Linked DNA regions of Homo sapiens: region 2 is linked to region 1. Evidence: fine-mapped expression QTL. A gene starts in region 1. The other region holds a variant in brackets. All regions are shown on one strand. Distances are between the middles of the regions.

Region 1 (4,393 bases):
ATTTGCCTACTCTGTCGCATCTTCAGTTCATTTCTTTCATAGCACTTATTCATTGCAACTGTTTTATCTGCTGGCCTTTCTTCCCTACTTGAAATGGGGTTATCTGCCACTGTATCTACAAAGCCTACCACAATACCCAGTGGGCAGAATAGATGGAAGAAAAATTGTGTGCTGAATGCATAAATAAAATGTTTTTCCTTTACCTGGAATGAAATCTAGTTTCTTGAAACTTCCACCTATTGATTCTAATTTTACCCTCTATAAATACATTGGGAAAAAAGTATACTTTACTGCATGTGTATCATACTTTAATTAAGTATATACTAAATCCATTCTTTTGTTAACTGCAGCACTCACCTGTGTTTTAGCAATTGCAACCTTTGCTGACTTCGGAGAGTATCAAGAAGCAGATAAGGGCACGACTCCCAGGTGACATCACCTGGGTTGGAATATGAGCTCCAATACTTACACAGACGAAATGGATCTCACTTGTGTGATTTTGAACTAGTTATCTAATCTCTTGGTATCCCACTTCCCTCATTTGGAAAATTAGGATAAGAGTTCAATTATTGTGAGAATTAAATGGGATAATGTATGTAAAGAGCTTACCCCAGTTCCTGGCACAGGAATGTTAGCTGACAAACTACTGCTGCTGTGTCACCAGCTAGACAGGAAAGCTCCTTAAAAGCGGTAACATTGGCCAGGCGCCGTGGCTCACGCCTGTAGTCCCAGCACTTTGGGAGGCCGAGGCGGGCGGGATCACGAGGTCAGGAGATCGAGACCATCCTGGCTAACACGGTGAAACCCCGTCTCCACTAAAAACCCAAAAAATTAGCTGGGCGTAGTGGCGGGCACCTGCAGTCCCAGCTACTCGGGAGGCTGAGGCAGGAGAATGGCGTGAACCCGAGAGGTGGAGCCTGCAGTGAGCCGAGATGGCGCCACCACACTCCAGCCTGGGCGAAGAGTGAGACTCCTTCTCAAAAAAAAAAAAAAAAATCAGTAACATTATTTCTTTATATTTCTAAGACCTACCTTATACAAGTTTCAACAAATCTAGATTTAAAGCTATCATCCTACAAGTCTGGCTAAGACATCCCTACTTCCATATATTCCCCTAACACCCTGAACCTAGCCCACCTGTTATTTATCCCAACAGTCATTTTACTATTTTGTCTCTAACACCTGACCCTTAGGAGCAGGTCTATCTTGTTCACCATGTTATCCTCAACACCTGCAACACCAAAATTCGATAATTAAGTGACTAAATCACTGTGGGCCTCCATTTTCCCTATGAAAATCATTTTAAAAATTATTTGTCTGTCTCTGCCCATTCCACACAATGAAAACGTAGGCAGCCAAACTCTGTTTTGTTAACTGCTGTATCTAGTATCCTCTACCAGACGCTCCAAAATATTTGGTAAAGGACTTTTTTTTCTGTTAATTCATGTTGATTCTCGTAGTTTTCTGCTACGGAATTAAATACTAAGCCTGTTTATTGACTCCGCAGCGTTCCCGATGAGCTATGTGTGCTCACCAATATTTCTCCAAAGCCTAGGCTTGGAGCAGAAATAGCAGATTATGTATTGAATGAACAGAAGGACATGTCATTTTCTAAGACTGAAAAGAGATGCAGCAAAATGAGAAACGTAGTATTGAATAGAAGGGCTGGGAGCGATGTGAGTAAGGTTTTTGTTGTTGTGTTACATACATTTCTTTAATTCCCAAGATCTCTAGAGTAGTTACACTATTTAATGAAAGAGTAGTTAACAGTGTATAATAGAAGCTCTTTTTTAAGTAAATGAGGGTGCAAAAGACAATGACTCACCTTCCTTCCCCCACCTGGCTCTTATGACCTGGCAGTACAGACATAGCCTTAACACCTGGCCCGCCGGTGGCCTGGGAGCCTCGTGCTCCCTCTCAGACCTGGCTGCCAGTAACCCGAGGACAGTCCAGCCCGCAAAACCGGAAGAAAACCAGTGCAGAGAACGCCCGCGGGCTCCAATGCCGGACGCCGGCACTCTGAGCAACCCACCCCACCGCCCCGCACTCACCACCAGCGCTGCCACGAACCCCGGCCGGTCCATGGTCGCTCAGACCTCGTCAAGGCTACAATCCAAGCCGGAGCAGAAGCGGATCACGTCCTCGCGCGCTGGGCGCCGCCATGTTTGAGGCGGGTCTGTCTTGAACTTCCGGGACCACGTGACGTAGAACCACAACAACTGCACGTGCAACGCGAGACACCTGGGCCTAGGGGAGGGCCAGAGAGGAGGGGCGGGGCCTCGGGGAGTGTGGTGGAGCTAAGTCTCGGCAAATCCCTTACCTCGGTTTCCTGCAGCAGCGTTGTGTGCAGCTAGACGGAGGAACTTTCGCGAGCAAAAGATCCGTGGCCGAGATCCAGGAGAGAGCAGCGGTAGAATGAGGCCGGCGTGATTCTGAACTGTAAACCCAGAAGAGGCGTGGCTGTGGCGGAGGGAGGAGTCGTGAGGGGTAGTACTAACCTCGGGAGGCGCGATTCGGGATCCTAATCGGATATTTCATTTTGGTTTATCTCTTAGTTTTGTCAAAAAATTTTATCTGAGTTTATATTAAATTAACTCATTATCAGAAGATTATTAAATAAAGATATAGAAAAATACATCAGAAGTTTCCTGACCGGAGTTAAAAATTAGCATCCTCCATTTCTCTTTACAGAGTTACTGCATTTAAAATTATTTGTTTGTTCAGTTATTTACCTGCTCATGTTGTTCGCTGTTGTACTCATGTGTACACCTCAAAGCACACGTTATTAAGTACTTAATAACATTTCTTGGAGTGGACCTGTCTTTATTAAACAAACAAATACCTTGTAAACTTCTGTATATATTAAGGGCCAACTACATCTCAGACGTGGTGCTAAGTGATTGACAGACATTTTTTCATTTAATCCTTTCACCAACCCTATGATGTCAGCAACACTAGTGTCCTCATTTTACAGAGGCTCCTGATGCTCCAACAAGTAACCGACTCAATGTGGCTACAGAGAACACAGCAGAGCAAGCACTGAAAATATACTTAATGCCCTCATCATCTTTCCTCAAAACCGTTATAATAACCTGAGCAGGCTCCTTGCCTGGCCTTTCTTCAATCCCTATTCTATAACACTGCTAGAATTATTCTTATAATTATTCTTATTCTCTTCTAGGTAAAATGATCTAGAAATGATACGCAGAATAGCTTTAGGTGTTAGATGGAATTCAAATTCTATCACCTGCTGGGTTTGGGGATAAGTTTTCCAAGATTAAGTTTTCTCCCCTGTAAAGTGGCGATAATGATAGTCACTTTGTCATGCGGTACTATTATATTAATAGATTAAATGAGATAATGCACTCAAGTTCTTAGCCTAGTTCCTGGCTCATAGAAAGTACTCTCTAAAGGTGATGGTAATGTTATTTCCCTGCTTACAACTCCCCTCTGCTGCCAATGGAGACAGTCCAGCTCCCTAGCATGGTATACACCTCTCAGCTGGTGTCTCCTGTCACTCTTCCCACTAGCCGGACTACACACAGACAGACTATACACTTCCAAGCCTCCTAATTTTGCCCATGTTGTTCTCTCTACCCAGAATACCTTTCCCTAAGCTGCCTGTAGGCCCTCTCAAAACATGCTAGTTCACTTTGTCAATGCCAGCAGAAGAATCTCTGTTGCTGCTATTAATGTCTTTCAAAGTCTCATGTGCTTTGGTCAGGCCTACCCAGGATAATCTCCATTTTTATTAACTCAAAGTCAACTGATTAGAGACCTTAATTATATCTGAAAAATTCCTTTTGCCATACGTGACAACATAATCATGGTGGTAATGTTCTGTCATACTCACAGGTCCTGCTCACAATCAGTGGGGTGATTATGCAAAACACATTAGGGGCCAGGAATCTTGAGGGCCACCTTAGAATCCTGCCTACTTCACATTCCTATAAACCCTCACCGGCAGCCTCCTCAAAGGCCATCAAGTTTCTATTAATAAGCTTTCACTGACATTTCCCTCACAGTCTTCCCACCTTTCACCTACTGCCTGGTGCCAATGGCACTCCCACAGTTTAGGAATTACAGTAGCGCCCACCTCCAAGTACCAAAATCTGTATTATTTGTCTATTTCTGCGTAACAAATTACCCCCAAAATTTAACAGACTAAAGCAACGATAAACTTCTATTACCTCACACAGTTTTCATACGTCAAGAATCAAGGAGTCATTTAGCTGGGTGTTTAAGACTCAGAAATTTTCATGACACTACAGTCAAGATGGTGGCCAGGGCCATATCATAAAACTTGATCATGACCGCAGGATCCAATTCCAAGATGGCTCACTCCCATAACTGGCAGATTAGTGCTAGCTATTGGCAGGTAGCCTTAATCCCT
Region 2 (4,393 bases), 160 kb before region 1:
TGTAGTGGGGTTGTCTTGGCTTATTCCAAGTCCTCACAGCTTCCGAAAGACTCAGCTGTTTGTTAGACTCTCCCCAAAATTGACGTTGACAGGAACTCTGGTGGTGCCTGACACGTGGCTGGATGCGTCCCACTCTGTCAGGACATCGATCTTTAGGCTGAGCAAGCTAGCAAGCTGAATGCTTCCTGCCTGGGTATACGGCAGTGGGCAGGAACAGCCTGGGTGAACAACCATCCAAATGGATGAGCCATCCCATTCATCCCATGAACACCCATCCAAACGGATGAGCCATCCCATTGCTCTCCCAAGGTGGAGGCATGCCCACCTTCCCTCTGTAATTCCATCTCCACAGCCTCTCTCTTGGTGGGTAAAGCAGGCAAGCATCAGGCCTACCTAGTGTGGATGGGCACCCCCTGCAACTCCCGTATAGGCACTGCCATGTAGAGTAAAAGCCTTTGCTTTGAAGGGACTATAGCCAGCCTAGGGTGTACAATGCAAGGCTGATGGGATGGAAGTGTTCCAACTGTGGTGGGAGAAGCTGGGGGTTCCTGATTCACAGGTGGCAGGAGTGGTCCTGGGCAGACATTGGGAGAAAAGAAGTGAACTGGCACTGGGCACAGTGACAGGTAGGTGTTTGCCAGAGGACTTCCTGGTTTTGCATCTAGCTGTCCCGTAACCCGACCCTGTATACGTATGTTTTCCAGTGTTGCCATCATTCACCAAAACGCCCCACGACATAACCATCCGGACCACCACCATGGCCCGCCTCGAATGTGCTGCCACAGGTCACCCAAACCCTCAGATTGCCTGGCAGAAGGATGGAGGCACGGATTTCCCCGCTGCCCGTGAGCGACGCATGCATGTCATGCCGGATGACGACGTGTTTTTCATCACTGATGTGAAAATAGATGACGCAGGGGTTTACAGCTGTACTGCTCAGAACTCAGCCGGTTCTATTTCAGCTAATGCCACCCTGACTGTCCTAGGTTTGCCTATTGCTCTACTGTGTGTGTGTGTGTGTGTGTGTGAGCGAGAGAGAGAGACTCTCAAATGCTCTGTGTGGCCAGGGGTGGTATGCGTTGTGGGCCTTTCGACCCTGTTTGAAATTTGGGGCTGCTTTTTGAGTTGAGTTAATTTTTCTTAAACAAGTGTTTCTATCTCTTTAAAAGAAATGATAGCTGGTGAATTAAGAGTCTTCATAGGGTTTAGCTACAGAACATTTTAAGAATTGGACAGGATGGATGTGGGCTTGGTCAAGAGCTACAGAACATTTTAAGAATTGGACAGGATGGATGTGGGCTTGGTCAAGAATAAGGACACAGGCCTGACACAGGACAGTTAGGGAATAGCAGGGGCTTTTGTCAGCAGAGGTTCACTGTCCCTGTGGAAGCCACTCCCAGCATGGAGATGACTCAGTCAATGAGTTGAAGGGTCTTCTCCAAAGCTTGCCACTCTGAGACAGAATCTCAGATGCATCTCATTGATATGTTGGATTGTCCGTTGTCCAGAAGACCGGGCAGAGCCAGAGCAACGGAGGCCCTGAGAATGACTAAGATCTCTGTTGCTCTCTTGTAGAGACCCCATCCTTGGTGGTCCCCTTGGAAGACCGTGTGGTATCTGTGGGAGAAACAGTGGCCCTCCAATGCAAAGCCACGGGGAACCCTCCGCCCCGCATCACCTGGTTCAAGGGGGACCGCCCGCTGAGCCTCACTGAGCGGCACCACTTGACCCCTGACAACCAGCTCCTGGTGGTTCAGAACGTGGTGGCAGAGGATGCGGGCCGATATACCTGTGAGATGTCCAACACCCTGGGCACGGAGCGAGCTCACAGCCAGCTGAGCGTCCTGCCCGCAGCAGGCTGCAGGAAGGATGGGACCACGGTAGGCATCTTCACCATTGCTGTCGTGAGCAGCATCGTCCTGACGTCACTGGTCTGGGTGTGCATCATCTACCAGACCAGGAAGAAGAGTGAAGAGTACAGTGTCACCAACACAGGTCAGGCCCTGCCAGCGGAGCTGACTTTCAAGGAGGGAGGAATGGCAGTGATGCTGGGGAACTGGGCCGGGTTCCAGTGGCTTTTGAAAGAAT[T/C]GCACTGTGTTCAGAACTCCTGAGGGTTTAGTCCCACTAATTCCATTTTAACTTTGAGGAACTTAACCTTAAACAGGAATACTCTCAAATTTAACCTTAAACAGGAATACTCACAAATACAAGTAACTGACGCACCATGCAGTTTTCCCTCTCCTTGCTAACTCAGAGGCCGCCTATGCACAGGCCCTGCTGCCACGTAGTAGGTTGTTCCTGAAACAGTGCGGTACTTCTGTGAGCCCCGGCTTTCCATCACTGGTCTCCACTTCTTGTGGCGTCTGGCATCTGCTGGCTGCGCTCTTCACGCTGGGTGTAGAGTAAAGCTGAGCAGGCTCTGGGAGGGCCTGTTGCGTACATGGACTCCATGTCATCTCTCTGCACAGCGCTGATGGTCGTCACTGGGAGGATCCCCTTTCTGAGCTTGACAGTGAACGTGTGTCTGCATTTCTTGTCACTGAGACCCTGGTGTTCTATTTGTTCTGTCTCCTTGCAGATGAAACCGTCGTGCCACCAGATGTTCCAAGCTACCTCTCTTCTCAGGGGACCCTTTCTGACCGACAAGAAACCGTGGTCAGGACCGAGGGTGGCCCTCAGGCCAATGGGCACATTGAGAGCAATGGTAAGGCCTCAGTAACTGTGAAGCAGAGCTCTGCTGTGACTGTGTCTCTGGGTGCTGGAGGTGGCCTCCAGGTCTTTACAGGGCAGGTACCTGGCATTAGATGGGGCAAACTTGGTGAAGTAGAAGGCGGTATGACTAAGGGCTGCTATTTTGGACCCAGTCTTCATGAGTTCTGCAAGGTTTTAAAGTCCTGTCCCCTCAGGAAGCCACTGGATTGGGCTTAGCATCTCCCTGGCAGGATAAAGTAGGCTTGCCTGGAGTAGCAGCTGGAAAGGGCATTACGGTGCATGAACCCAGCCAACCCATTCCTTACATGGGGAACGTGCCCAGGTCTGCTCTGTGATCCAGTCTTACACTGGAAAGCTGTCACCAGGATGAGGTACTTCCAACGGTGGGGGCCTCTGAGCACTTGCCTGAGACTGTAGAGGCTCACCCTGAGACAGCTGCTCATTTCACAAGGCCAGCCTGCCTGCTGGGAAGTAGTAGCAGAAAACACGCTGCTTGCCAGACCAGCAGCCCCACCGCTCTGAAGAACTTTTTAAAAAAAATGACTGTTCTAGCGGCCTTGCTCATTCCTTTCATAAGGCTTACTGTGAAATACCAAGCCCAGAGTTTCTAATCGTGTTGGAATCCACTTGCAGGTGTGTGTCCAAGAGATGCAAGCCACTTTCCAGAGCCCGACACTCACAGCGTTGCCTGCAGGCAGCCAAAGCTCTGTGCTGGGTCTGCGTATCACAAAGAGCCGTGGAAAGCGATGGAGAAAGCTGAAGGGACACCTGGGCCACATAAGATGGGTATGAGATGCTTCCCATTGGAAGTAGTTTCTTTCTGAAATGGAAATTTGGGCTGACCTAGTCACTACATCAAAGGGGGAGACACATTCCTAGTCCACAGCTGTCTCCAAATTTGGTATTCAGTATATACAGGGGAAGCTCAGGCCTGGCTCTCTTAATTCCAGGATAGTTTCTCCTAAATAAATCTACGCCATGGTAAGCCTGAGCATGAATTTTCTAGATGTATAAGCAACTTAAATAAGGGGCAAGGCACAAACGAAGTATAGAGTTTCAGTCAGCACTTTTTCACCAGGGCTATTTTGAGGCTTATTTCTAATTGTTGAAAAGACCCAACACTGCATGGTACCTAAGGCTAATGGCTTTTCCCCCGTGAAGCAGTAAGACTACATTGTCTATGAAATTCACTGTAAACACGAAAGACCCCACAGTTCATGAGTGACTTGGTGTTTGCCCAGTCCTTTCTCTGGGGACATAGTTGGGGAAAAGAGGAAGCATGCATACAGTGTTTGCAGTCAGGGTTCTCACCTTGCACAGTGGAGCTGAGCAGCCTGTCCTCTGTGTGGGGACGAAGACTCCCACAGCAGTGACTCTAACCCATCTTTGGCGCTGTCCTTCAGAACACGGTGGCCGGGTCGTATGCAGTGACTGCAACACCGAAGTGGACTGTTACTCCAGGGGACAAGCCTTCCACCCCCAGCCTGTGTCCAGAGACAGCGCACAGCCAAGTGCGCCAAATGGCCCGGAGCCGGGTGGGAGTGACCAAGAGCATTCTCCACATCACCAGTGCAGCAGGACTGCCGCTGGGTCCTGCCCCGAGTGCCAAGGGTCGCTCTACCCCAGTAACCACGATAGAATGCTGACGGCTGTGAAGAAAAAGCCAATGGCATCTCTAGAT

Evidence for each region. PIP is the estimated chance that this variant, and not a neighbour inherited with it, causes the effect.
Region 2: its variant is the best candidate, but not a certain one, in a credible set for the expression of SLC25A26 in whole blood (INTERVAL, PIP 0.76).

What each region holds. Positions count from the first base shown.
Region 1 is chr3:66,218,786-66,223,178 of GRCh38, reverse strand. It overlaps SLC25A26 (solute carrier family 25 member 26), which reads right to left and starts at 2,178. Exons shown (of 10, transcript NM_001379210.1): 1 at 2,052-2,178. The coding sequence starts at 2,084. RefSeq lists enhancers at 1,555-2,054, 2,176-2,235, 2,406-2,565.
Region 2 is chr3:66,380,584-66,384,976 of GRCh38, reverse strand. It overlaps LRIG1 (leucine rich repeats and immunoglobulin like domains 1), which reads left to right. Exons shown (of 19, transcript NM_015541.3): 14 at 705-986; 15 at 1,576-1,995; 16 at 2,579-2,704; 17 at 3,346-3,498; 18 at 4,116-4,393. Among named protein-coding and RNA genes, the nearest start is that of LRIG1, 120 kb to the left of the region's middle. RefSeq lists enhancers at 1,281-1,780, 1,781-2,282. The variant T/C (reference allele first, on the strand shown) is at 2,089.